7 separate regions of the Homo sapiens genome follow, and regions 2, 3, 4, 5, 6 and 7 are each linked to region 1. The links come from fine-mapping of genetic effects on gene expression. A gene starts in region 1. Each other region holds a variant in brackets. All regions are shown on one strand. Distances are from middle to middle.

The links.
Region 2: its variant is fine-mapped to the expression of ITGB1BP1 in whole blood (INTERVAL, PIP above 0.99).
Region 3: its variant is fine-mapped to the expression of ITGB1BP1 in whole blood (TOPMed, PIP above 0.99).
Region 4: its variant is fine-mapped to the expression of ITGB1BP1 in whole blood (TOPMed, PIP above 0.99).
Region 5: its variant is fine-mapped to the expression of ITGB1BP1 in whole blood (TOPMed, PIP above 0.99).
Region 6: its variant is fine-mapped to the expression of ITGB1BP1 in whole blood (TOPMed, PIP above 0.99).
Region 7: its variant is fine-mapped to the expression of ITGB1BP1 in whole blood (TOPMed, PIP above 0.99). The same link has a PIP of 0.9 or more in cerebellar hemisphere.

Annotation. Positions count from the first base shown.
Region 1 is chr2:9,421,742-9,425,803 of GRCh38, reverse strand. It overlaps ITGB1BP1 (integrin subunit beta 1 binding protein 1), which reads left to right and starts at 2,276. Exons shown (of 7, transcript NM_004763.5): 1 at 2,276-2,431. CPSF3 (cleavage and polyadenylation specific factor 3) reads right to left here and starts at 2,150. Exons shown (of 18, transcript NM_016207.4): 1 at 1,981-2,150. The coding sequence starts at 2,030. RefSeq lists enhancers at 1,914-1,963, 2,004-2,053, 2,924-2,973, 2,967-3,825 and a silencer at 2,484-2,783.
Region 2 is chr2:9,566,368-9,570,432 of GRCh38, reverse strand. It overlaps LOC101929643 (a long non-coding RNA gene), which reads right to left. Exons shown (of 3, transcript XR_922777.3): 2 at 1,707-2,068. Among named protein-coding and RNA genes, the nearest start is that of ADAM17, 13 kb to the right of the region's middle. The variant ATTTTTT/T (reference allele first, on the strand shown) is at 2,382.
Region 3 is chr2:9,301,028-9,305,092 of GRCh38, reverse strand. All of the region lies in intron 3 of ASAP2 (ArfGAP with SH3 domain, ankyrin repeat and PH domain 2), which reads right to left. Among named protein-coding and RNA genes, the nearest start is that of ASAP2, 96 kb to the right of the region's middle. The variant T/C (reference allele first, on the strand shown) is at 2,269.
Region 4 is chr2:9,268,031-9,272,095 of GRCh38, reverse strand. The region is part of intron 1 of ASAP2 (ArfGAP with SH3 domain, ankyrin repeat and PH domain 2); the gene reads right to left. It also overlaps the pseudogene EIF1P7. Among named protein-coding and RNA genes, the nearest start is that of ASAP2, 63 kb to the right of the region's middle. The variant AG/G (reference allele first, on the strand shown) is at 2,326.
Region 5 is chr2:9,484,009-9,488,073 of GRCh38, reverse strand. It overlaps IAH1 (isoamyl acetate hydrolyzing esterase 1 (putative)), which reads right to left. Exons shown (of 6, transcript NM_001039613.3): 5 at 3,524-3,642. Among named protein-coding and RNA genes, the nearest start is that of IAH1, 11 kb to the right of the region's middle. The variant T/CT (reference allele first, on the strand shown) is at 2,151.
Region 6 is chr2:9,397,703-9,401,767 of GRCh38, reverse strand. ASAP2 (ArfGAP with SH3 domain, ankyrin repeat and PH domain 2) reads right to left here. Exons shown (of 28, transcript NM_003887.3): 25 at 1,696-1,745; 26 at 938-1,026; 27 at 372-494. Among named protein-coding and RNA genes, the nearest start is that of ITGB1BP1, 24 kb to the left of the region's middle. RefSeq lists an enhancer at 661-1,224. The variant A/G (reference allele first, on the strand shown) is at 2,234.
Region 7 is chr2:9,499,563-9,503,627 of GRCh38, reverse strand. It overlaps ADAM17 (ADAM metallopeptidase domain 17), which reads left to right. Exons shown (of 19, transcript NM_003183.6): 13 at 1,352-1,455. It also overlaps a transcript of IAH1 not described here. Among named protein-coding and RNA genes, the nearest start is that of IAH1, 27 kb to the right of the region's middle. The variant C/T (reference allele first, on the strand shown) is at 2,293.

The sequences.
Region 1 (4,062 bases):
TTATACTCTTTAAATGAGTTGTATGGTATGTAAATTGTGAGTTGTATGGTATGTAAACTGTATCTCAATAAAGCTGTTACGAAACAACCAAATTCCCAAATTTACTCCAGAGTTGCCCCATCTCTTATACTCCTTGAGTGAATAACACTACCCTTTCCCAACTGCCAAACTTAGGAATCTGATCATAACATCCTCTCTGCCCTGCCTTCCCTCCCCACAACCACCCTTCCAGATACAGCTGATCAGCCACAAAATCCTGAAGATCTCATTTGCATACTCTCTCACACTCACATCACTCACTACAGGCTCTCGTCAGCTAGACTTAGAATCTTTCAATATCTCACTGAATCTGCTCTACTCAATCCATGCTTTTATTCATCCATGCTTTTATTCATCTGCTACACTGCTGCCAGGAGAGATTTTCCTAAAACATAATTCCCACAATATCCATGCTTGCTTAATAGCCTTCGCTGGCTCCCTGTAATTGACTTGATAAAGGTCCAAACTCCTGTGTATACGAGGTGCTTCCTAAACTGGACCTCAACTGCCTGTCGCTTCATCTGCTAACTCAACTCTTTAGCTACAGCCATGAGGAATCTGGCCACAAGCTGTGACCACTCTCACTTTCATATGTGCCACTTCCACTGCCTAGAACATCCTGGGCCCCCCAGTCTTTAACTCCTACTCATTCTTTAGGACTCAGCTCAGGCATCACATTTTTCAGGATCCACGAGGTATCCTTTTTTCCTCAATCTGTCAGAAATCCCTTTTCCATACTTTCACAGTGCTCAGTGCAATGCCTGCCTGCGTTCTTAGATTAGCTATTATTTACAAAGCACCTACCGCGATGTTCACTCTTCAAGTTTTATCTTATTTCCATATGAGAAAACGGGTTCAGTGAGATTGTTGTCCTACTAATTGGTCAAGTAGATAATGGACTTCAGGTCTGACTTCAAAGTAATAGTCTCCTATTATTCCAAAGTATCTCTCCAATATTTCCCACTGTGCACTGTAATTCTCTCCAAAAGAGCGAGAGCAATTAACTGGGCCCTCTGTTGCGTCTATATCCCCATGTGTGGTGCTTGACACTTGCTCAGTGTTTGCTCATCACAGGAAGACATGACAGGTGTGAACTAAGCAGAAGGAAACGGACTATGTCCCAAGCAGGTGCTCAATGAAGCCTTACTGAATGATTGTGTAAAGGAGATACTTTCTACCTTTTGGAAAGCGTATATTCATGTTGTGCCAACTAGTATCTAACAATAAACATGTTGTGGGTTCGAAATGCTCATCTGTAGGAATTCAAGTTCTCTACATTTGCATCTCCCCTTCAGCAGCATTCCCGACTGATGAGGATCGTGTCCACTGAAAGGCCACTCTCCTTATGGACAGTCGAGGGCTGAGTTTTTGTCCCTAACACCTCTGCACTTTCTCTTCTCCAGCTTTACACCTTCCTTATTCTACTAGGGCCTGAGCTGAGAAGATCGAAACTCACGGCAAGTCCCTAATATTTTCTAACTTCTGGCACATGTGAAGCCCTGGTGTTAAGAAACAGACTTAATTCTTCCCTGCACGGCTGTAGCCTCATTCAGGTCCTCCTCTCATCCTGTCGGTCATAAGCTTCACCGGCTCCCTCACAGCTTGCCCTGACGCGCAGAGATCCGTGCTTGTGCTAAGTGAAAACGCTTCTTAGCGTGTACGAAAGCGAGCGGTGGCCCCGTAAAACTTTTTTTTTTCCGACTCCAACATACCCTCCCCTGAAACTGATGAAAAAGCAAAATCCCGTTCACTCTATAGCAGGCCCCTTCCGATCAACGGTCCTCCAACCCCTCGAGCCTGAGAAGCCTGGCCCGCAAGCGCGGACCAAAGGCAGGCTGCCGGGGTAGGTGGGAGCGCGGGCGACGGAGGAGGCCAGTCTCCGGTTACCCCTCGCGCCCCTCACAGCCCGTGGCTTCATTCCCTCTCTCGCTGGTCCCTTACAGGGGTCGGATCAGCAGCTGGTCGCTCTCCTCAGCAGGAATCGCAGACATCCCGAAAGTGTGAGGGCGAAGCGGGGGTGAGGAACAGGTCGCCGGGGTCTTCCTAAATTGGAAGCACAGCCACCGGTAAATAAAAAAGGAAGAACCCCATTCACCAAGAGCACAACTTCCGTCACTCCGGAGCCCGCGGCACTAGACTCCTCCCCTCGACTTCCGGTCGGGGGACGCCGCTCGCGAGGCTTCCCACCACTTGGGGTCTTGGAACCGGGGGTAGGACGTCAGGACTGCGCCTGCGCATAGTCTTGGAGGCGCGGCCCGGCGGACGTGGGCAGGAGGGCTGGAAAAGCCGGCGCTGGAGCGGGAACGGGAGTAGCTGCCTGGGCGCCAAAGGCCGCGGCACTCCCACGCGGACCCCGAAGTCCGCAACCCGGGGATGGGCCCGCGGCTGCGAGGTGAGCGCCCAGCCCTCGTCCCGCTTGGGGCCGAGCTCGCGGAGGCCTGACGGGAACACGGTCCCGAGAGCGGCGCGGACGGCCAGGAAGGATGGGTGGGGCCGCGGGGCGGGCGGAGGAGGGATGCCTGGGCTCGGGCTTGGTTCCGGGCGGGGCCGCGCTCCCGGGGCGCGGGTGGAGGAGCTTGGAACCACGCAGATCGGGCGTGGGCTTGCGGACTGCAGCTTCCCGAGCCGCTGTCGCCCCGGAGGGGCGGCAAGGCGGGCGGCCGCGGGCCGTTTCCTTGCCTCTTCCTCTGCCCCGCTTCGGCCGCCTCCCGCCTCTCAGGGTCGGGGTTGTCTGTCCCCTTCGCTGTCACATCCTCCGCACCCAGCGCTTGGAAGGTGCTCCATCACGGTGACAGACAGGTGCCAAGCAGGCTGGCGTCTGGGAGGAACTTCGGAGCCGGCTCTCCCTAGGCCCCGAGCTTGGCCGCATCCGTCCTTACTCTGGTGACCCTGGGCAGGTCACTGACTCTTCGGGCGCTTTGGCATCCTCGTTTGAAAGGGGCTGTTATCCTGCAGCCTTGCTGGTCGGTGAGGGTGAGGGTGAGAGGGATCTGTGCACCTAGCACCGTGCATGGCACGTGGTAGGCGTTTGGTACATGGGAATCGCTGTTGGGGTGTCACCTCCCCAGAAAGTTCTCGGCTTCAGTAAGCGCGTCCCCTGCCAGGCGCCCTGGCAATGCAGAGGAGTCACCGAGCTCCGCCTTTGACCAGCGTGCAGCTGGGAGAGTGAGATCAGAGACCACAGCAGATCGTGGCGCTGTGATCAGGGGGTACACTCAAGCTGTGGGTCCCTTACCCCAGCCTTGAGATCCCAGGAAGGCCTGCAGCCTGAAACGGGCCTTGAAAGGTAAGAAGTAGCCAAGTGCCTGACAGGTGAAGGACGTCCCGGGCGGTGCAAAGCAGGGGCGCGTGGAGCATCGCGCTGAGAACCAGGAGCAGCTTTGCCTTGCTGAGATCAATGAACTGTGCCCGGGTTGTGGAGGATGGAAGTGGAAAGGTGATTAGGAGCTGGGTCCTGGAGGACCTGGCGTGTCGTGCTGAAGAACGTTGACTTTGGTCTCTGACTTTGGAGAACCAGTGAAAGATTTTCAGCAGGCTAGTGGCATTAGATTCATGTTTGAAAGAAATCATTTTAATCGTTTTGGCTGCAGTGTGGGGGTAGATTTAAAGTGTTAGGGAATCCAGTAGGACAAGGTCCCTTATCCACGAAATATCCTTGGGTTTGTGAATTCCTTAAATTCATGCCAAACTTTGTATGGATGTGCATTTTTATAGGGTGAGGATCCATCACATTCATCAGTTTCTAAAAAAATAGTGTCTGTGCCCATGGTTTAGGATGACGGGGGCCCTGGTGGAGAGCTGGCTCAGAGAGCTCTTCAGGTGGGGTATACAGTGGGTCTTGGTGCCAGATTGGATGTGGGGCCTGAAGGACAGCAAGGAAATCATGATTTTCTGGCTTCCTCCAGCAATAATAGAATCTCCTGACAGGGAGAGGAGAGGAGAGGAGCAGATCTGGAGGGGAGGATGATGGGTTCAGCTTGAGACATCTTTGCATTTGATGAGCCTGCGGAGCATCCAATCGCC
Region 2 (4,065 bases), 140 kb before region 1:
GTGCATGACTAGAAGGCCTTAAGTGATAAAGGGTTTGGAAGATTTGGCTTGCCCTTGACTTCTGAATTTTCAGCCAAGAATTCCTTCCTGCTGTCCAGATAGCAGAATGAGCAGCTTCCCTAAAGTGAAGGAAAGCCTATTGCTAACATATTCCATCCTAAGCGAAGAAACTTCCTGATTGCTTGGGGGGAGATATTACTTCTAATGTAATAATGGGTACTAATGATTTTCTTCTGAGTCCTTTATAGGTTAAAATCAGATGAAGAGAGCTTATATACCCAAATTAAGCTGCGCCACCCCCCTACTTTCTGGGGTTTTTTGTTTTGTTTTGTTTTCTTTGTTTTTGGGTATTTTTTTTTTTTTTTTGAGACTGAGTCTCACTCTGTCACCCAGGCTGGAGTGCAGTGGCATGATCTCGGCTCACTGCAACCTTTGCCTCCCAGGTTCAAGCGATTCTCATGCCTCAGCCTCCCGAGTACCTGGGATTACAGGCACCTGCCACCATGCCCGGCTTATTTTTTGTATTTTTAGTAGAGATGGGGTTTCATGATGTTGTCCAGGCTGGTCTCAAACTCCTGACCTCAAGTGATCTGCCCACTTTGGCCTCCCAAAGTGCTGGGATTACAGGCGTGAGCCACCGTGCCGGGCCAGGGTTTTTTGTTTGTTTTGAGGCAGGGTACAGCTCTGTCACCCAGGTTGGAGTGCAGTGGTTCACAGCTCACTGCAACCTCCACCTGCTGAGCTAAAGTGATCCTCCCACCTCAGCCTCCCGAGTAGCTGGAACTACAGGCTCACACCATCACACCTGGCTAATTTTTGTGTTTTTTATAGAGATGAGGTTTTGCCATGTTGCCCAGGCTGGTCTCAAATTCTTGAGCCCAAGCGATCCATCCACCTTGGCCTCCCGAAATGCTGGGATTACAGGCATAAGCCACCATGACTGGCCTCATCCACCTACTTTCTTAAAGGCAAATATCCCTCTACCTCACAAAGAGTTAAGAGCTCTCATCTGTGTAGGAAAGCATTGTGCCCTCTCATGTCTCCCAAAATAGATGTCTAATTTCTTTGAATTTTGCCTTAAATGCTCAACTTGAATGCCTCGTTATTGAGACACTGGAGGTGGCAATTAGTGAATGACTAGCCTTCCAGCTGCTCCTTTTGAGTATATTGTGCTGGGTGGATGATCCTGTTACCAGCAAATGTTGGATTGCAAACTCATCTGTCAGGTGGCAATCAAAAACTAGCCTGGAGGCCTGGGCACAATAGCTTACACCTGTAATCCCAGCACTTTGGAATGCCAAGACAGGAGGATCGCTTGATCTCAGGGGTTCAAGACCAGCCTAGGCAACATAGTAAGACCCCTGTATCTACAAAATATAGAAAACAGCCAGGCCTAGTGGCATGCGCCTGTAGTCCCAGCTACTCAGGTGGTGGGGGGATCACTTAAGCCGGGGAGTTCCAGGCTACAGTGAGCTGTGATCATACTATTGCACTCCAGTTTGGGTGACAGAGCAAGACAGTTTCTTTTAAAAAAAAAAACAAAAAAAAACTAGCCTGGGCTGGGCATAGTGGCTCATATCTGTAATCTCAGCAATTTGGGAGGCCAAGGTGAGAGGATCACTTGAGGCCAGGAGTTTGAGACCAGCCTGGTCAACATGGCAAGACCCTGTCTCTACCAAAAAAAGAAGTAAAATAAAAATACTAACCTGCCTCTGACAGGGCCTGCCTGAAGAGATGCCACTGTTTAGGCAGTTGAGCCCTGGACTGGAAACCAGAAGGTCTGGGCTGTCATTCCTGCCCCTAACTTGCAGTGTGCTTTGGGAAAATCCCTGAGTCTCTTTTTCTGTAAACTCCAGGAAGACATAGGGTTCTACTAGACGGTTCAGGAGTGCTTCAAACCCAATAGCTCTGTAGACTCCAGGAAGACATAGGGTTCTACTAGACGGTTCAGGAGTGCTTCAAACCCAATAGCTCTGTAGACTCCAGGAAGACATAGGGTTCCATGAGAGGGTTCAGGAGTGCTTCAAACCCAATAGCTCTGTTTTCATCCATTTTATACAATACGATCCTGCAAAAGATTTATTTTGCAGATAGGGTACTATAGCTAAAAGAAAAAAACCCCAAAACACAAGAGCTTGAAAACATCATCGGACTAGATGGCAACCACATTCCTCTGTATATTTCAAATTCGCATCTATGTTATTAACTGAAGTTTTTATTTTTATTATAATTTTTTTTGAGATGGGTTCTTGCTATGTTGCCCAGGCTAATCTTGAACTCCTGGGCTCAAGCAATCCTTCTGCCTCAGCCTCCCTAAGTGCTGGGATTACAGGTGTGAGCCACTGTGCCCAGCCTAACTGAAGTTTTTATTTTTTATTTTT[ATTTTTT/T]GAGACACAGTTTCGCTCTGTTGCCCAGGCTGGGGTGCAGTGGTGCGATCTCAGCTCACTGCAAGCTCCGCCTCCTGGGTTCACGCCATTCTCCTGCCTCAGCCTCCCCGAGTAACTGGGACTGCAAGTGCCTGCTACCACGCCTGGCTAATTTTTTTGTATTTTTAGTAGAGACAGGGTTTCACTGTGTTAGCCAGGATGGTCTTGATCTCCTGACCTCGTGATCTGCCCACCTCGGCCTCCCAAAGTGCTGGGATTACAGGTGTGAGCTACCGCGCCCGGCCCTGAAGTTTTTAATGGATGTATGCTTTCAAATTATTTATTGAACAAAGCAGAATGTAAATAATCAATATATAACTAGATAGATATGATGAGCAAACATTGCAGGCTGCCCATGATACCAATAATGAGCCAACGTTGTGATTCTGCACTAACTTACTTGTCTTTCAGAGTAAGCCAATAAATAAATGGTAATGTTCCCCCAACGTAACCTCTTTATATTCTGGTTCTTCAAGGTGATCAGTCCTTTGGAAGCAAAGCACAGAACTGCGTAGTGACCACACATATCAGAATTAGGGAACTTCTGACTCACACCTGTAATCCCAGCACTTTGGGAGGCTGAGGCCAGAGGACTGCTTGAGCCCAGGAGTTCAAGACCAGTCTGCGCAACATGGCAAAACCTCATGGTGGCATGTGCCTGTAGTCCCTGCTACTCTGTGGGCTGAGGTGGGAGGATCGCTTGAGCGCAGGAGGTCGAGGCTGCAGTAAACCATGTTCATACCACTGCATTCCAGCCTGGGCAACAAAGTGAGACCCTGTCTCAGAAAACAAAACAAAACAGAATTAGAGGACTTCTAAGCTCTATATTAAGCAGAGAGGCACACTGGCTGGGCAGTTCTTACTCGTTTTGCATACATAATCTGAACAGTATGGAAGCAAGAGTGCTTTTTTCTGTAGTCCAGGTTTTAAGATGTTTTCATAAGCAGATCTCATTGATCAGGATCCTAGAGCCTGCCCTCTGGGCTCCCAGTCGGAGTGCCACTGTTAGCTTGTAGCCTGTAAACTCTGGGGACATTTTTCACAATAGCTGCAATGTGAATGCCACCGTCCTCAAGGCAGGGGGTCTAGAGTAGCAGGTTAGCAGGTTCTTTTTTTTTTTTTTTTTTTTGAGATAGGGTTGCATTCTGTCACCCAGGATGGAGTGCAGTGGCACGATCTCAGCTCACTGCAGCCTCGACCTCTCAGGCTCAAGTGATCCTCCTGCCTCAGCCTCCTGAGTAGCTGTGACCACAGGCATCCACCACCACGCCCAGATTTTTGTAGATAAAAAATCTACAAAAATTTTTTTATTTTTTGTAGAGACAGGGTCTCACTATGTCTGGTCTTGAACTCCTGGGGTTAAGTGACCCTCCTGCCTCGGCCTCTCAAAGTACTGGGATTATAGTCATGAGCCACTGTGTCCAGCCCAGATTCTTTTTTTTTCTTTCTTTTTTTTTTTGAGACGGAGTCTTGGTCTGTCTGTTGTCCAGGCTGGAGTGCAGTGGTGCAATCTTGGTTCACTGCAACTTTTGCCTCCCGGGTTCAAGCGATTCTCCTGCCTCAGCCTCCCGAGCAGCTGGGGTTACAGGCACATGACACCACATCCAGTTAATTTTTTTTTTTTTTTTTGAGAAGGGGT
Region 3 (4,065 bases), 120 kb after region 1:
CCTCACCAGTATCTATACCCCACTATTACGGCCCCTCCACCAATATCTATACCTCACTACACTAGCCCCTCCACCAATATCTTTACCCCACTACTCCAGCTTGTCCACCAATATCTATACCCCACTATTACAACCCCCTCCGCCAATATCTATACCTCACTACTCCAGCCTCTCCACTAACATCTACACCCCACTACTCCAGCCTGTCCACCAATATCTATACCCCACTATTACAACCTCCTCCACCAATATCTACACCCCACTCGTCCAGCCCCTCCACCAATATCTATACCTCACTACTCCAGCCCCTCCACCAATATCTATACCCCACTATTACAACCCCCTCCACCAATACCTATACCCCACTAGTCCAGCCCCTCCACCAATATCTATACCCCACTATTACACCCCCTCCACCAATATCTATACCTCAATACTACAACCCCTCCACCAATATCTATACTCCACTACTCCAGCCTCTCCACCAATATCTATACTCCCAAGACTACAGCCTCTCCACCCTGTATCTACACCCCCACAACTGCAGCCCTCCCACCTATGTACATCCCCCTACAGCCCTCCCACCTGTATCTACACCCCCCCTACAGCCCCTCCACCGCATATCTACACCCCCTACAGCCCTTCCACCCCCTATCTACATCCCCACTAGAGCCATTCCACACAGTACCTTGTAGATTTGGCAAACAATTTTTTTCTAAGTTTGAGGTCACCTACATCGTGGCAGTTGTCCCTTTAATAGCCAGCAATTAAGAAAACACACAATGACAAAAACAAAAACAAACCCTGTTTTAGGTTCATTAATACTTTCAAACAGAAACAGCATGTCCTACACACATTTGACAATTGTGAAGAAACTGATTTCTAAACCTTGCAAGCAGGCTTGTGTGCAGATGGACAAGTGCCATACTGCAGTGCCCCTCCACCCTCAGGGATCCAGGGAAGCAGGGACCCAGGGCTCAGGGCGGGGAGTCACTGCTCCCTGCTTCCAATGCTGTACCCTCAGGGCTCCGCAGGCTGCCAGTGGCTGTCCCGGCACATGTCTTCTAATAAAAGCATCTGTGTCCCCTGCCCAGGCAGGAGTTGCCAGAGGTCACCGCCCCATACAGCACCAGCGCATGGATAGCACCCAGCAGGTGCCCAGTCCTCGTCTCTGTGAGTTCTCCCTCCCACGCCCAAGGCCTCACCATGCTATCTTTGCCCAATATGGCTTCTCCCACTTTCTCTGTATGGGGGTTACCGTATCACAGCATTCCCTCCCAACCCCAAAAAGAAACAGTATCCAAGTCCAATGGAAATCTATTATGTGGCTATGCCACAACCAAAATGTAGATATCTGACACCAGCCTTATTTGTTCATTGTCTCGATCAAACAATGTGCTTTTGTTTTTGGTTAGAGATTTGTGAGTATAGAACATAGCTTAGCGTTGAAGTCTTTTGGGTCTTAGATAAGGAATTTCCAACTATAAATGAGGCCATGCCAAAATCTAAATGGCAGAGGTTTCTAGGGGCCCAAAGCGACTGTCAGCAAGTCCATCAAGGTACTCTCTCTCCCCTCCTCACTCAAAGCCCTAGCCCTCAAGCCCTCCTCAAGCGAAGCCTATGGACTCCTAATTTGCACCCAAGTCTAACAAGCCAAGTCACCTTGCTCTTCAGCTCGCAGCATCGTGAAACAGAGACCTTAGAGGCACCCAAGCACTGACAGCAGGAAAAAGGGCAACCAATAGAAAAAGTGTCAGAATATTAAAAAGCAAATGTCAGAAACGGACACCTAATAATAGTCCAGGACTAATCCAAGGGCGGATATTCCCACGTACCCCAAGCCACTGGGGATGTCTCTAGATTTCAGCATAGTTCATTAGTTTATGTCTAAAACAGTGACTTAAATCTTCCTCCCAAAAAGATGATACTATGATCATTGCTCTTGTTTAATTAAAAAACAAAGTAAGACATTTAAGAATCTAAGACATTTGCAATACAAGAAGTTAGGAGAAAGTCTATGGAAGTACTGAGGGTGAGGACCTCTGGTAGCAAGATGTCTATATTGAGTGACGAGACAAGCCTTACTAATATGGACAATCAGCTCACACTTAACCTAAGCCTGACAGCACTGGGCAGAGTCCTGCTGTACTAGTACCAATGCAGCCAAGCCAGGATGCCCCTCTGCCAGGTGCAGCACATATGAGAAAGCCACAAACTACTGCTTGTCCCAACAGAACCTTACTACCTCCCTAGTAAGGTTAGCTATAA[T/C]GTCTTCTGACCAGGCGTGGTGGCTCACACCTGTAATCCCAGTACTTTGGTATTACAGGTGGTGGCTCACACCTGTAATCCCAGTACTTTGGGAGACCCAGGCGGGTGGATCACTTGAGGTCAGGAGTTCGAGACCAGCCTGGCCAACATGGAGAAACCCCGTCTGTACTAAAAATACAAAACTTAGCTGGGTGTGGTGGCTCGCGCCTATAATCCCAGCTACTTGGGAGGCTGAGGCACAAGAATAGCTGGAACCCGGGAGGCGGAGGCTGCAGTGAGCCAAGATCGTGCCACTGCACTCTAGCTTGGGCGACACAGTGAGACTCTGTTTCAAACAAACAAACAAAAAAAGTTGGCCAGGCATGGTGGCTCATGCCTGCAATCCTAGCACTTTGGGAGGCCGAGGTGGGCAGATCACGAGGTCAGGAATTCAAGACCAGCCTGGCCAATACAGTCAAACTCCGTCTCTGCTAAAAATATAAAAATTAGCTGGGCATGGTGGCACGTGCCTGTAGTCCCAGCTACTCGGGAGGCTGAGGCAGAAGGATCGCTTGAACGCGAGAGGCAGAGGCTGCAGTGAGCCAAGACTGCACCACTGCGCTCCAGCCTGGGCGACAGAGCGAGACTCCGTCTCAAAAAAAAAAAAAAAAAAAAAGGCTTCTAACTCACATCATCTGTGTTTGGGAAAAAAAAAAAAAAAAAGGCCGGGCGCGGTGGCTCACGCCTGTAATCCCTGCACTTTGGGAGGCCAAGGCGGGTGGATCACGAGGTCAGGAGATCGAGACCATCCTGGCTAACGTGGTGAAACCCCATCTCTACTAAAAATACCAAAAACTAGCCGGGCATGGCGGTGGGCACCTGTAGTCCCAGCTACATGTGAGGCTGAGGCAGGAGAATGGCATGAACCTGGGAGGCAGAGCTTGCAGAGAGCTGAGATTGTGCCACTGCACTCCAGCCTGGACAACAGAACGAGACTCCGTCTCAAAAAAAAAAAAAAAAAAAAAGATGATGGATACACACGTTGCTTGGTAGAGCTTTCCATTTCCTCTATCAACATGGGTGAGGGAAAACTCCTTAGCCCAGGGTCACCTCAGATCTCATGCTGCAACTCTGTCCTCTCCTCAGCACCCATTGGCTCCTGCTTTCAATGGATGCTGATCTTCATGTGGAGCGGGTTCTGCAGACCGTGAGGACATCTTTCACTAACAATCCTCTAACACTGGAGACAGAGACTACATATCTGTAACAAACCTTTCAGAAACCTGCCCTGAAATGCAGCCTTTCATTAGAAAGCCACTTCTCAGCACAGAGGTGGCCCTTGGAGTCTTTCCAGGATTCTCACATCCATTGGGGAAGAGGAAAAGAACCCCTGAAACTAGGCTGACTTCATAAGCACTTTAATTTCACACATGTCACATTTCTGGAGCCGTCTGGTTTTCCCTTTCATCCTGCATCACCGCAGAGAAAATTCACAGACTTCTGCAGGTGAGAATCTCACCCATTAGTAAGAAAATCTTGCTTTATATTAAGCTGGCATTTCTCTGGAGATCTTCCAACTGCTTTATAAACATTCTTTCACGCCTCCAAGCAGGTAGGTGGTAATTGTTATTCTTTCTGGACAAGAGGTAGCACTGTGAGTCTTAGCCAGACAGAACTGAAATGTTTTAAATGCCCGAGGGAAAGCAAAAGCAAGGCTTGGAAGATATGAGATAAGCCAGATGTGACCAAAAACAGGAAGAAGAATGGTGCACAAAATTCCAAAAAAGGAGACTTCCGCCATAATCCGCTCCCCATTTG
Region 4 (4,065 bases), 150 kb after region 1:
TGATCCAGCAATTCCACTGCTGTGTACATACCCAAAAGAAAGGAAATCAGTATACTAAAGAGGTACCTGCTCTCCCGTGTTTACTGCAGCACTGTTCACAATGGCCAAGATTTGGAAACAATCTAAGTGTCCACTAACAGAAGAATGAATAAAGAAAATGTGGTACCTATACACAATGGAGTACTATTCAGCCATAAAAAAGAATGAGATCCTGTCAGCTGCAATGATGTGGATGGAAATAGAGGTTATTATGTTAAGGGAAATAAGCCACGTACAGAAAGACAAACACTCCATGTTTTCAATTATTTGTGGGAGCTAAAAAAAAAAATTAAAACCACCCCAGTCACTGAGCCACTGCCGAGGACTCAGCAGCCTCCCCCTTGGGCCCCGTCGCTTCCCTACTTTCCGTACCCTCTGCCCGCCGTCTTCCGCAGACCATTTCCACCGAGAAAAAGAAATTGGATCGTATGTCCACTATCCAGAACCTCCACTATTTAAACTCCTTTGCTGATGCAAGTAAGGGTGATGACCTGCTTCCTGCTGGCACTGAGGATTATATCCATATAAGAATTCAACAGAGAAACGGCAGGAAGGCCCTTACTACTGTCCAAGGGATCGCTGATGATTACACCAAAAAGAAACCAGTGAAGGCGTTTAAGAAGTTTGCCTGCAATGGTACTGTAATTGAGCATCCAGAATATGGAGAAGTAATTCAGCTACAGGGTGACAGGTGCAAGAACATATATTATGCCAGTTCCTCGTAGAGCTTGGACTGGCTAAGGACGATCAGCTGAAGATTCATGGGGTTTAAATGCTTGTGGCTCACTGTAGTTTAAGTGAGGATTTCCTTGCAATGAGTAGAATTTCCCTTCTGTCCCTTGTCACAAGTTTAAAAACCTCACAGCTTGTATAATGTAACCATTTGGGGTCCGCTTTTAACTTGGACTAGTGTAACTCCTTCATGAAATAAACTGAAAAGAGCCATAAAAAAAAATGAAAACAGGGCCGGGCGCGGTGGCTCACGCCTGTAATCCCAGCACTTTGGGAGGCCGAGGCAGGTGGATCACGAGGTCACGAGATCGAGACTATCCTGGCTAACACGGTGAAACCCCGTCTCTACTAAAAATACAAAAAAATTAGCCGGGCGTAGTGGCGGGCACCTGTAGTCCCAGCTACTCGGGAGGCTGAGGCAGGAGAATGGCGTGAACCCGGGAGGCGGGGCTTGCAGTGAGCCGAGATCGCGCCACTGCACTCCAGCCTGGGCGACGGAGCGAGACTCCGTCTCAAAAAAAAAAAAAAAAAAAAAAAAATGAAAACAATTGAACTCATGGAGACTGACAGTAGAAGGATGGTTACCAGAGGCTGGGAAGGGTAGGTGGGGTGGAAGTGGGGATGGTAAATGGGTACAAAAATATAGGTGGACAGAATGAATAAGATCTAGTATTTGATAGAAACAGGGTGACAAAGGTCAACAATAATTTATTGTACATTTAAAAATAACTAAGAGAGTATAATTGAGATGTAACACAAAAGAAGGCTAAATGCTTTGAGGTGATGGAAGCCCCATTTACCCTAATGTGATTATTATGCACTGCATGCCTGTATCAAAATATCCCATGTACCCCATAAAAATATATACCACGTACCCACAATAATCAAAAATTTAAAAAAAAATACTGAAATCTTAGAGCAACAAAAAATAACAAAGCTTGAGTCTCGAGGAAGCAAAGATGTCTACCCATCAGGCTGAGAATTCTAACCAGACCCAGGCTCTCAACTACCATGCTCCCCAAACGAAAACTCCACTCCAGCTCAGAGCGGGGGAAAAGCAACTTTCACGGGAACTTATGTGTAAAAAACACAAACAAAGGCAAGAACCGAAGAGACCCCAAGACAGGAGCAGGGCCTGCACTGCAGCTGCCGCCTGGCCAGACCTCATTAATTCTCAGGGGCCAGGTGGAAGCTGACCTTCAGTTTGTCAAACAAGTTTTACAGAGTGAACTTATCACAAAAACCAGAGAGGGGGATGTGTCCCAAATATTTCTGAGGAAAACTACTGTTTCAAACCACTTTAAAAGCATCTGTTTGGAGTTCCCAAACTCTTCTATAGGTTCCTCTCAAGTTACCGAGGGGCCTCTTCCAATCTCTGCTGCTCAGCTGAGCTGGAGCCAGGACAGGGGACGGGGACAGTGTGTGGGGACAGTGGGGACGGTGCACACTGTGGGTAAGGGAAGTCCACCACAGGAGAGACCACCACAAAGCTGTTCACTCATTTTCCACACCTGTGCTGTCCAACAGGGTAGCCACAGAGGAATGTTTCTATAA[AG/G]ATTCATTCAAATTTCAAATTCAGTTCCTCAGGCCTTGCCACCTTCTGCAAGAGCTACAGCCACCCAGGCAGCACAGTGGCCTCTGAATGTCCCCAACCCCATGCTTCTCTTCCTCCGTTCATGGGCCCCACTGTACCGCCTGAGGGCGGTGCCACCACCTCTGGGGTCACCCGGAGGCCCTGGCCATGGTTCCCCCGTGGGCTCAGCATCAACATCACCCCATGGCCACCCTCCTCCATGTGGGGGCTCCTCTACCTCTTCTTGGTCCCCCACAGAACCCTACAGGGCCTCCATCCTGTGTCACCACAGGCTGAATGGTGCGGGCCAAGCCCACTATCTGAGGAGATGACCTGGCTCAGGGTGGGCACACACGGCCTGCGGGACAGCTTTTATCCAACCGTGAGCTAAGGGTGTTTCCAGACGAACATTTCCAATGAATGCAAGGACAGGGTCACAGGAAAGACCAACTGAACCCAAATTAATTAAGATAAATGTTATGCGCGCCCCCTCCCCCCCGCAAAATAATTCCTCTCTTCCCCTTAGGAGACCTGCATTACCAAAAAATTGTACTCCATTATTATTTTTATATTTTGAATTTCATTAATAAAAAATTTGTAGATATTTATCACCTCTCTTATGTAAGTACCTACATACCGCCTTGAGGCCCGCCAAACCTAAAATATTTACTATCTCTGGCCCCTCACAGAAAAGGTTTGCTGAGCCCTGGCCTCAAGGATCCATGCAAAATGCCCCTCCCACAGCACCAGCGGCCCCTGCACCCCACTCCTCCCAGCCCTGACAGGGAGCCCACACTGCAGGCAGCACAGCACCGGTTTGTCCCCAGCACCCTGAGTTCTCAATGCGAACCAGCAGGGGTGGGAAGAGGCTGGCTTCCTTCTTAGAACCCGAAGATGCTGCCCTGGGGAGAGCAGAGGCCTGCAGCACTCAGGCAGCCCTAGCATGCTCCGCTCTCCCGTCCTATCTCCTCTCCCCTCGTTCCACGGACGAAAGGCCAGCCTGAGAAGAAGGGACATTTCTGAAAGACAGTAGACAAAACAAAAAACAAAACACACCCAGGTCCGTGCCCCCAGGGTGGCTTTGCCAAGAAGAGTCAGACAGACATTCAGATGGCAGCTTTGTCTCACCACGCATTCGACTCTTCAGAAAGTAACAGAGAGCATTAATGACAGTGTCAAATATTTCCAGAAGCCTTTTGGGAAGCGTAGACTTGCACTGTGACCTGTGGGCTCCGTTTAAAGCCAGAGCAATAACGAACCTCCCCCCTTGTGGGAATAAAGCCAGGCCTGAAGAATAGCAGGTGTCGCTAAGAATTAAGATCAAATAGACGTCTGAGCTAAGTCACAGCTGAGGAAAGTGTGTGCCTAAGGACAGATGAGAAGGGCGTGTTTTGGTATTATCTTAAAAAATTAAAATTACTCAGAGTAAATATACATCCACAACAGAAGACATGGACAGGCTGTCCTAACACTCCTCAAAACAGCCCCCAACTGGATAAACCGAAATGTCGATGGTAAAATGAATAAACTGATGATGGACATTCGTACAACAGAATGCTACACAGCAACGGAAGAGAACAAACTTACCCCACAACACAAGTGAACTTGACAAAAATGTTGAGCAAAAGAATACATGCAGTATAAAAAGTTCAAAAACAGGCCAAACTAAATTGTTTATGTTTAGGGATATACACCTTGTTGGCAAACTACAAACTGAGGCA
Region 5 (4,065 bases), 62 kb before region 1:
TTTGGGGCCGAGGATTACTGGAAGACAGGAGTTTGAGACCCTGTCTCTACAAAAAATTTTAAAAATACAAAAATTAGCTGGGTGTGGTGGCAAACACCTGTATTCCCACCTACTTGGGAGGCGAAGATGGGAGGATCACTTAAGCCCAGGAGTTGGAGGCTACAGTGAGGTATCATTGCACCACTGAGTTCCAGCCTGGGTGATAGACTGTCTCCCCCCACAGCGCGCGCGCGCGCGCGCACACACACACACACACACACACACACACACACACACACACACACAAAAAGGCCGGGGAGGGAGGGTATAACTTTTCTAAATGCCAGTGTGTACCATTCTCTCATTTGTGGCCCTGCGACAGAAATATCACCAGCCCCTTTCATTGTAGGCATCTGACCAGAGGTGTCTTGGACTACAGTAGCACTGATGTGCTATTTACGTAGGTGTTTGAACACACAGAGAACCCTGACTAGTGCTATAGTGCTGTCTCCATATTATAGAATTGAGTTTCATGAAAGTCACTCACCATTAAGTGAGCTGGGACCTCATTCCAGGTCTTCTGAATCATATGACATGATTCTCAGGTTATTTGAAAGAACCTTAACAGGTAAATATGGCCTATTAACGTAATCAGCAAAAATGAAAAATTTGGTATTAGGAGTGTTCAGGGGCCCCATGAGTCAATATTGTTTTTGACTCTAGGCAGGTTTTTAGGCAGAAAGAACTTCTACCATCTAACCTAGAACAGTAATTGCTGGGACACAGGAGTCCAGTCTCCCTCCCATTGCCCTGAACTCAAGAGTACATATTTAAAAAGATACACATATTTTTGGAGACAGGGTCTTGCTTTGCTGCCCAGGCTGGAGTGCAGTGACATGATCATGGCTCACTGCAGCCTCAACCTCCTGGGCTCAAGCGATCTTTCTAACCTCAGCCCCCTGAGCAGCTGGGACTACAGGCACGTGCCACCATACCTGGCTACCTGGCTAATTTTTGTGCTTTTTGTAGAGATGGGTCTCTCATTATGTTGCCCAGGCTGGTTTTGAACTCCTAGGCTCAAGCAATACTCCCACCTTGGCCTCACAAAGTATTGGGATCACAGGCATGAGCAGCCATACCAGGCCCTGAACTATAAGAATTTTACCCATACAGCCATTTCTTTCTTGGGGAAGAATCTCACTAGCCAAGAGCTCTGTTAGAATCTGGGTGGCCAACTAGCTTATGTGACTTTTTTTTTTTTTTTTGAGCTAGAGTCTCACTCTTGTTGCCCAGGCTAGAGAACGATGGCACAGTCTCGGCCTAATTCAACCTCTGCCTCCCGGGTTCAGGTGATTCTCCTGCCTCAGCCTCCCAAGTAGCTGGGATTACAGGTGACTGCCACCACGCCTGGCTAATTTTTGTATTTTTAAGTAGAGATGGGGTTTCAACATGTTGGCCAGGCTGGTCTCGAACTCCTGACCTCAGGTGATCCACCTGCCTCAGCCTCCCGAAATGTTGGGATGATAGGCATGAGCCACCGCGCCCGGCCTTATGTGACTTTTAATAGACCAGAAATTTAGATGCTATCATATAATAGTAGCACTTCTTCTTCGGCCTTGGTTTTCTCATCTAGGCAGTTTGAGATGAGATGATCTCTAAGGACGACCCTCTCAGTTTTGTATTAAATTGAAAAAGACATGTGAGCAAAACTAGCCCAATAGTTTGCAGTTTCCTTTCCTAGACAACAGAACTCTAGATGTCGACCCTTTTGGCACTCAAGCTGCCAAGGCCCCTCCTAATCTGGAATTCTGGAAGGTTCCAGTACTCCAGGGTTTCAGAGGAAGACTAGAGGCCTAGGGTCCAGATCTGCTTAGGCTCTCAGGGCCTCCAAAGGTGACTGGTGACTCGGCATCCACGTGGTAGTATGACTTTCCCACTGGTGACCATTTTCCCTATTACAGATGGATAATAAATGTGTAGGTCATTGGAACGATTGGTATGGATTAATATTTAGGGGAGAGGAAAAAGTTGGCACTTGGGTTAGTTTCTTGGCTGTTTTCTATGTTGCTTTGTCCAAGTAGCCTAAACCTAACAGCTAGGAATAGAGGAAACCGGTGAGGCTGTGAGTCTTCCCGTTTGTCCAAAGAGCTTCCCGCACACTGGATCCTTCC[T/CT]TCCCTTGAGTACTTCAAATATCATCAGTCCCGTCCAAGCTTTCTCTCTGGATCCCAGCATAGCAATGAAGTAGCCTTTAATGTGCCCTACTGAACAAGCTCTTTACAAAAGAGTAGCACAAGGTCACAGAAAAATTAAAAAAGACCAGTGCCTGTCTGCCCCTCTTCACCAGTATCTGTGTGGAACCTGAATTTAGCCATACCTTTCCTTGCCCTAACCTCTGGCCACCATGGACCTGTTCTGTTACTGCAGTCTTGCCTTTTTTTGGGGGGTGGGCTGGGGAGGGTGAGACAGTCTCCCTGTATCCTCCAGACCGGAGTGCAGTGGTGTGACCTCTGCCTCCCGGGTTCAAGCGATTCTCACACCTCAGCCTCCTGGGTAGCTGGGATTACAGGCGCGCTCCACCATGCCCAGCTAATTTTTGTATTTTTAGTAGAGACAGGGTTTCGCCATGTTGGCCAGGCTGGTCTTGAACTCCTGAACTCAGGTGATCCACCTGCCTTGGCCTCCCAAAGTGATGGGATTACAGGTGTGAGCCACCACACCCAGCCCAAGTCTTGCCTTTTTGAGACACCAAAACAGATGGACTCATGTAGTAAGTAGCCTTCAGAGACCAGCTTCCTTCCCTCAGTGAAGCGCCTCGAGAGTCACCCACGTTGCTGCGCTTGTCAGTTCCTCCTCTTTATTGCCGAGTAGTATCCCATTCCACGGACACACCAGTTTCCCTATTCATCACAGAAGGACACTGGCGTGTTTCCAGCAGGTAGGAATAATGCTGCTGTCAACAGTTACACCCAGGTTCTGTGTGAACATAGTTTTCATTTCTCTAGGGCAGATAACCCAGGAGTGGACTGCCAGGTCCTCCCTAAGTGTATGTGTGACTGCGTCAGAAACCAGCTGTCTCCTGAGTCAGTGCACCATTCCATGGGACCTGCTTTTTACCTTTTATATTTGTGCTTTCAGGCTTTAAAACAAAGTAACTTAATTAGAACTACATATCTCAAACAGTTTTATTAGCCAATACTGTATTTAAATTCATTGTTTTACCTATTAACAAGTTTTAGCTTTCTGCCATTCTCTGTATGAAAGAAGAACTTGGCCTGGACGTTCATAAATATGAGCCATGTGTTGCTCATTGATGTCACTGCGCACTAACTCCTAGCCAAGGAGCCTGGCTGAATTAAGCTGCTGGGCTTGTGAGCCATCCTGGAACCTCCATTCCTCCCCTCCCCCAAGCCTGTTTGTTTTCATTGGCTAAAGGGATGACTGTCTTAGCTAAGCAGGGCCTTTCTAGGGAAAGCTGCTGCACACACACCTGGTTTACTTCTGTGTGATCCTATTTACCCCGAGAGGACCGAGCAAGCCACCGTACCTGGCTGTCCTGCATCAGGGTCCACAGGTCAAGTACGTCAGTCCCACAGTCTTGGGCCACTTGTAAACACGCATTGGCATATTCACCAACAACAGAGTTCAGGCGATTTAGTTTGCAACCTATTGAAGAGAAGAAATAGAGGTGGCAGTTGGTAAACCCAAGTGCTGGCCCTTGTGTAAGTTCTGCTCCACTCATCTAGACAGTTTCAAAATGCCATTAAATATTGACCCCACTTGGGCCAGCCCCGGGGTTTAGGGTATATGTTGATGAGCCTTGCAGGTTACTGGTGTGCTGCTCTACCCAGCAGAGGACAAGGTGCAGTGGGAAGAAGGAGCCTTCAGTGGTAACCGGAATCTTCTGAGGCGCCAGGGAGGATGTTCTAGAGGACACCTTGAACAGAGGCAGAGAGGCAGGAAAGGCCCAGGAGGGCTGGGCTGCTTGGAGAGTGCCGGCTGCAGGAGCTGGGCTGGGGGCTGGTAAGGGCTGCACTAGTAGGAAATGCCAGGCCATGGAAGCTGAACGCTGCGCTGACACCGCTGGCT
Region 6 (4,065 bases), 24 kb after region 1:
CTCAGGCCTGGGGCTCTGCGCTCTAGGTCAGCTCTCTCCAGACACCCGATTCCACTAATCCAGCAATGGGGGGTGATGACCTAGAAACTCAAGACCTCAAAATGAAGGAGTGTCATTTCAGGCCCTCATGAGTGCTGTGGAAACTGCACCCTAACAGGGGAGGAAGCCACCCTGGGGAATAATCAGGCCTGCTCAGAAGGGGGTGTCCATGGAGGAAGCAGCTCCTGAGGATGCTAAGGGGCGGAGGCACCAGGAACTACATCTGGACTGCTCAGGCTGAGAAAACCTCACCTGCAAGCCCGTCTCTCCAGCCAGGTGGGCAGGGACGTGGCTCAGCCCCCAGGAACCTCCCAGGCCCACCCTTGACTCACCCACCACTCCTGGTCCTCCTCCCCGTCCACGATGATCACATCCCCCTCGGAGAAGGTGAGCTCATCGGGGTTGTCAGCCACACAGTTATAGAGCGCTTTCACCCGCTTAGGCTTCAACTTGGTCTGGGTCAGGAGAGGGAACAACGGTTAGTGTGGCTGCAGGCCTCAGCTCTCAGGGCAGAGAGCTCAAGCACCCTGCCTTCCCCGGTCTCAGGAGTCCCGTACCTAGGCCTGAGAAGCCTGCAGATGCCAAGGTGGGGCAGGTCAGTGCAGCTCAGGAGCCAGGGAGAGAAAAGGGAAGAGCTCCCCACCAAGCAGAGAGAAGGGGCCAAGGGCTGGGAAACGAAGCGGCCGGGGCAGGGTACTCTGAGTGGGCCCATTGTGGAGCTGCGGCAGGAGGGCCAAACCCACCAGCTGCCCAGATCCAAGCAGTCAGGTACCAAGAAGAGCCCCGCCCTGCCCCAGCCAGGGGAAGAGGGGAAGACTTGCTTCCCCTGAGCCCTTGTGAAACCACCTGCACCCCCCTGGCTAGAGCAGAGAGGCAGGAAAGGGGGCTCGTCACTTACTGCCTGCGACTTCCTAGGCATGGGTGCAGGGGGCTGCAGGACCATAGCATTGGACAGAGGACCCAGAGCTTCCGTTGCAGAGAGATCCACTGTAGGGCAAAAATGAAGCAGCTTAAGACATCCCATCAATCACAGCCATGAGATGTAAACAATGTACAAGCCACAGGGTGTGTCTGAAAGCAGGTTTCCCCAGGTGTTCCGATCTGTTGAGGGGAAAGGGAACCTTCTGACTTGGATGCAGACCTTGGAGAGCTTGTGTGGCAGCGAGTGTCCCCCAGTGAGCCTGCCATGTCAGCAGGAGGGGACAGGTGAGGGGCCCCAGGACTGAGCTGCTCAGGAGCAGGGGTCTCAGAGGCCGAGGGAGGAGGGAGGATGGCAGGAGGGAGGAGGGAGGAGGAAGGCAGGGAGGAGGGTGAGAGGAGGGGAGGGGAAGGGAGGGGTGGAGGAAGGCAGGTGGCGGGGGAGGAAGGCATGAGATGGGGGAGGGAGGGGGAGAGGAGGAGAAGGGAGCAGAGGAAGGCAGGAGTGGGGGAGGAAGGAAGGAAGGAGGGAAGGAAGGAGAGGAAGAGGGCAGGAGGGGAAGGGGGCAGGAGGGGAGGGGGCAGGAGGGGAGGGGGCAGGAGGGGAGGGGGCAGGAGGGCTGTGGAATGGCAGACAGCTGGGCCCTCCCTCAGTCCTGACCACCTGGCAGGAAACATCCCCCACATTGCCCCCATGGACCAAGCAGAAACAAACTCAGTCCCAAATTAAATAATTACCAGGTCCTCTCGGTTGGCCTTTGTTGGTCAGTGGGGTGGACTTGTCAGCCCTACAAAGACAGGGAAAAAGTAGATTTACTGCTACCGGAGGGCACCTGCCCCTTTCTCATCCCCTTTTATCAGAGAACCTTCTGAGTTCAAGCTCAGAGTGTGTGAGGTGGTTTCCTCCACTGTCACTTAGCTGTCTCTTTTTTATGGGAAAAGGAAGAATGAGAGGCCCTGAGGAAAGTGCTAAATTCAACGTTTCTGATCCTAAAACCAGGGCTTTTCCAGAGCACTCTGTCCACGTGAGCCTGCCACCGATGGCCAGGGTCTGGAGTGATGCTGGGCACTGGCCACTGGCCCCGCCCCGAGTCTGCTCAGCCCCTTCCCTGCCTTGGTCCCATCACATGAAAGGGCAGGGCTGAACCTTAACCTCAGGCCCAGATGGCTTTGCCAGGACGGGTCCGAGCACTCTGGGTCAGCGCTGTCCATGCCTCTGCCGTCCCTGCTTCTGGGAACCAATGTGGCTGACCACGGGCTCAAGCCCCATCCATGA[A/G]CCTCTGGGCCAGCACACCCCAAAGCCACAAGGTAGAAACACATGAGTGAGGAAGTAGTTCTCAGGGCTGGCAGAGAGGGGTCCCTCATCTCGAACCTGCCACCTGGCAGCCCTGGATAAATGGGTTCTGGAGAGTCAGCATTTTCATCTGCAAAAGGTGTGACACAAGATCCGTCAACTCCAGAGCTAAGGACCAGTGCCAGTGGCTTCAGCTCCCCGGTGGATCTCCTGGACCTAGCATAAAGCCAGGCACAGGACGGGGGCTGGAGAAGCAGAAGAGGAAGACCAGGGAGGAAGGGAAGGGGAAGGCAAGGATGGGATTCTTTCCACTGTACGCTCCCGTCTGTCGACACTCCCTTCGCTGCTCGGAATGAACCCTGTCTGGCCTCAATGCTTGCAGTCCCAGAATGAAGGGAGAGAAAACATCACATGGGTTTTGCTCATACGCTGAAGGAACTGAAAAGGAACTTTGTTTTATTCCATAAAACAAAGACCCCTCCCATTTGACCAGTCTAGCCATTTGTTTTCCATCTGTGTCTCTGGGTGTAAATGTCTCTGCAGACATCACTACACTGACCTGGCTGACCCCCTGGCCGGCAGTCATCCCTAACTACAGAACACTCGCAGGGAAGGCCTGATCCTCTGAGACAGCAGTGAGCAGACTTTTTCTTTAAAGAGGCAGATAGTAAACTTTTTAGGCTTTGTGAATTTTTTTTTTTTTTTTTTGAGATGGAGTCTTGCACTGTCACCCGGGTTAGAGTGCAGTGGCACAATCTCGGCTCACTGCAACCTCTGCCACCCGGGTTCAAGCAATTCTCCTGCCTCAGCCTCCCGAGTAGCTGGAATTACAGGTGTGCACCACCACGCACAGCAAATTTTTTGTATTTTCAGTAGAGACGGGGTTTCACCATGTGGGCCAGGCTGGTCTCAAACTCCTGACCTCAGGTGATCTGCCCACCTCGGCCTCCCAAAGTGCTAGGATTACGGGTGTGAGCCACTGTGCCTGGCCTTTGTGTTTGTTTTTTGAGTCAGGGTCCTGCCCTATTACCCAAGCTCGAGTGCAGTGCGGCAATCAGTTCACCGCAGCCTCGGAACTCCTGGGGTCAAGTGATCCTCCCGCTTCAGCCTCCTGAGTAGTTGGGACTACAGGTGCACGCCACCATGCTTGGCTAACTTTCAAAATTTTTTGTAAAGACATGGTCTCACTATGTTTTCCAGCCTGGTCTCGAACTCCTAGTCTCAAGCAATCCTCCTGCCTCGGCCTCCCAAAGCTCTGGGATTATAGGTGTGAGCCACTGCACCCAGCTGGTTTTGTGGATTCTAGCATCTCTGTTTCAAGTATTCAACTCTGCCACTGTGGTGTGAAAGCAGCCCCAGACTACATAAAAAAACAGGTGTGGCTAATGTTCCAATAATATTTTCTGAGTGCTGAAGTGAATCTCACACAATTTTCATGTGCCACAAAATATCCTTTTGAGGCCGGGCGCAGTGGCTCACGCCTGTAATCCCAGCACTTTGGGAGGCCGAGGCGGGCGGATCATGAGGTCAGGAGATCGAGACCATCTTGGCTAACATGCTGAAACCTCATCTCTACTAAAAATACAAAAAATTAGCCGGGCGTGGTGGCGGGCGCCTGTAGTCCCAGCTACTCAGGAGGCTGAGGCAGGAGAATGGCGTGAACCCGGGAGGCGGAGCTTGCAATGAGCAGAGATCGAGCCACTGCACTCCAGCCTGGGCGACAGAGCGAGACTCCGTCTCAAAAAAAAAAAAAAAAAAAAAAAAAATATATATATATATATATATATATCCTTTTGATTTTTTTTTCCCAACCA
Region 7 (4,065 bases), 78 kb before region 1:
ACTTCGTGATCTGCCTGCCTCAGCCTCCCAAAGTGTTGGGATTACAGGCGTGAGCCACTGCTCCTGGCTGCCCAAAGAATCTTTTGGGCAACAGAGATAAGATTTAACAAGGGTATAAGATTTAACAAGGTTTTTTTATGGCTACATCCTAATAGCAAAATTTTGGAAACAATCAAAATGACAGTCTTGGGATATGAATGTTATCATGATTCTATATACTGGAATAGTGTGGAGGAAGTAGGTTACAAGTTAGAAAGTTACCCAGGTTTTCATTTTTTATATACACTGATAGACCAGTGCCTGGCTTAGAAGTAAAAGGGTTAAACTTCAGTTTTCTGGTGAATAATTGAGATTTAACTGGATACAGTGCATATTAACGCTGTAAATACTGATGGGGAGTAGAGTTCTGGCTGCCGAGTGTCTTAGCTATGGATTGCCTTGTGGCCCCACCTTGTCTTTTTTTTTTTTCCTTGTCTTTTTTTTTTTTTTTGAGAGAGTCTCGCCCTGTTGACCAGGCTGGAGTGCAGTGGCGCGATCTTGGCTCACCGCAACCTCTGCCTTCCAGGTTCAAGCTATTCTCCTGCCTTAGCCTCCCGAGTAGCTGGGATTACAGGCATGTAGCACCATGCCCGGCTAATTTTTTGTATCTTTAGTAGAGACGGAGTTTCACCATGTTGGCCAGGCTGGTCTCAAACCCCTAACCTCGTGGTCCACCTGCCTCATCTTTTTTTTTTTTTTTTTTTTTTTTGAGACAGAATTTCTCTCTTGTTGCCTAGGCTGGAGTGCAGTGGTGCGATCTCGGCTCACTGCAACCTCTGTCTCCGGGGTCCAGGCGATTCTCCTGCCTCAGCCTTCTAAGTAGCTGGGATTACAGGAGCGCACCACCACGCCCAGCTAATTTTTGTATTTTTAGTAGAGATGGGGTTTCACCATGTTGGCCAGGCTCATCTCGAACTCTCCTGACCTCAGGTGATCCACCCACCTCGGCCTCCCAAAGTGTTGGGTTGGGATTATAGGTGTGAGCCACCTCGCCCAGCCCATCTTGTCTTTTTTAAATTAATGCGTTAAATGAATGAAAACCAAGGGCACCAAGATGTTTCACAGGTGATTGCTGTGTTCCCATTCTTTTCTCCTATAGTGTGGCATTTATGTGACCTCACGCACATTAGGAAGGGACAAAGTGTGTGCAGGTAGCTCTAGCAGCGGAGATGTCTGATGATGTAGGAGTGGGTGACGGAGCCAGGAGGTCTTCCCCGGTGATCTTCAGGTCACTGTAACGTAACTGTAGCGTTTGATTTGATATGGGGCCATAATTTGAATTGCTCTGTTCCTGTCTGCTGTTCTTCTCCAGTGACAGGAACAGTCCTTGCTGTAAAAACTGTCAGTTTGAGACTGCCCAGAAGAAGTGCCAGGAGGCGATTAATGCTACTTGCAAAGGCGTGTCCTACTGCACAGGTTCGTGTTCTTGTTGCTTCCTTGGAATGCTGTGGGTCAAGTGTGTGTGTGTCTTTGAAAAACAAGATTATGTTTTGTTCAGATGAGAGACACCTTATTTTTAATCTCATATGCCGGGTTGAGTTTCTGGCACTCCTTAGTTTGTGACACTTGGCTTTGGTGGGTTTAAGACCTGTTTCTATTTCTCTTTCATTTCCATCACTCTCCTCTTTCTCCTCACAGACATCCACTCTACTGTGGTTAATATTTGCCTGGATATGTGTATATCCTTGAAAGATCATATAGTGTTATTTTGTGCATGTATGTGTTTTTAATGTGCCAAAATGATATTCTACCTTAAATTTACTTTTAAAAAATTCAGTATCATGTTTTAAAGAATTACCCATATTGTGCTACAGATAATATAACAAGGTTTTTAATGGCTACATCCTAATAGCAAAATTTTGGAAACAATCAAAATGACAATCTTGGGATAATGAATGTTATCATGAATCTATGCACTGGAATAGTGTGGAGGAAGCAGGATACAAGTTAGAAGGGTAACCAGTTTTTCTATATGTATCTATATGTATTTCACTGTTGGGGACACCTACATATTGTTTAGTTATATGATTGGCTGTGTTTTACTTACAAGTCACCAAGTGGTAGCTACTTCCATTGCCTTCATCCCCTTGATATTCCAGATAGGACACAGATCACATCCTCCTACGTCCCTTCAGGAACCTGTGTGTTTCTCTGGGTACTGAGGAGTGTCATTGTGTAGTCACAGAGGCAGGATGTGCTGGTCTCTAGAGCACCACTGCTAGGTTGCCTGTGTCTGAGGACTCCTTATCCTGA[C/T]GTTCTGGCCAACGCTTGGAATTACCCTGCTGTCCTATTAGCATGATGAGTATAAAGTAATCTCTTGTTCTTACTTTTTTTTTTAACAGCCCTTGTCCTAATGCACTTACTTACATTTTTCTTGAGCATCTCTTTATATTTTTCAGCTATTCAGATTTCTCCTGTGAATAGCCAGTTCATATATTTGGTTCATTTTTTAAAAATTGGGTTTCATGTTATTTCACTACTGTGAATTTGGAGGAGTTCTTATGTAATCATCCATTTGGGCATACGTCTCCTATCTGTTGCCATTCTCAGAACAGAAATCTTTAACGTAATCAAATCCATCATTTTGTTGTGTGTGTGTATTTTTTAAACACATGGTTCAGAAAAGCCATGGCGGATGGTTAAAAAGATATTTTCCACAGCTGCTTCTATTAGCTTCATAAGTTGTCCTTTTACATTCAGGACTTGAATCTTTCTGGAGCTAACCTTTCCAGGTGTCCAGTATCTTTTGTTCGGTCAATTGTTGCTTTAAAAATTTCAAAGCTATGTTATTACTAGGTATATAAACGGACATATCTCTACATCTTTATCTGCTGTTCCTTACCAGTATATAATGTTCCTTTTTTACCCTTGCGATGTTTTTTGACTTAAATTGTCAAAAAGCAATATTCAGTTTGCTATTCTAGTTTTTTTGTTCCTCTGATATATCTATCTGTCCCATTCTTATATTTTTCAAAATTTGTCTCTCTTGGTTGGTTGGTTTGATTTTGTAATAGCTTTATTGATACATAATTCACACTCATGTAGTTTGCCCATTTAAAGTGTACAGTTTAATGATTTTTAGTATATTCAGATTTATGCAGTCATCACAATTAATTTTAGAACATTTACATTACTCCAGAAAGAAACCCTGTATCCTTTAGCTATGATCCTCCAATCCCCCCATTCCCCACAACTCAGAGCAACCACTAACCACCCTATTCTTTATGGAGTTGTCTGTTTTGAACATTTCATATAAATGGAATTATACAATATGGTTTCGTGACCACATATTGTATGACTGGCTTCTTTCACTGAACATAGCATTTTTAAGGTTCATGTATGTTGTAGCATGTATCAGTACTTCATGTACTTTTATTGCTGGGTAAATTCCATTGCATGGATATGCCACATTTTGTTTATTCATTCATTGGTTGATAGACATTTGGGTTGCTTCCACTTTTTTGCTATAACAAATAATGCTGCTGTGAACATTTATCTATGAGTTTTTGTGTGGACAGTTCCTTTGGATATTATTCAGGAATAGAATTTCTGGGTCATGTGGTAACTATGCTTAATCTTTTGAGGAGCTGTCAGACTGTTTTCCAAAATGGCTACACCATTTTACAGTCTCAGCAGCATTGTATGAGGGTCCCAGCTTCTCCATATCCTCACCAACACTTGTTATCTTTTTTATTGTAACTATCCTAGGTTTTGTGATAAGGATGCAAACAGAAAGCTGGAGGTCTTCAGGGACCTAGTGAATGAAGTTGTGTCCTATTTTGGCTTGATTTTGGTTTTCCGTGTGCATAGTATGACATGTTGCCCATGTTTTTATCTTTTGGGATCTGTCACTATCACATTACTTTGCCAAATGTTAGGAACCTGATGGCCCGGCACAGTGGCTCACACCTGTAATCCTAGCACTTTGGGAGGCCGAGGTGGGCAGATCACGAGATCAGGAGATCGAGACCATCCTGGCTAACACGGTGAAACCCTGTGTCTACTAAAAGATACAAAAAATTAGCT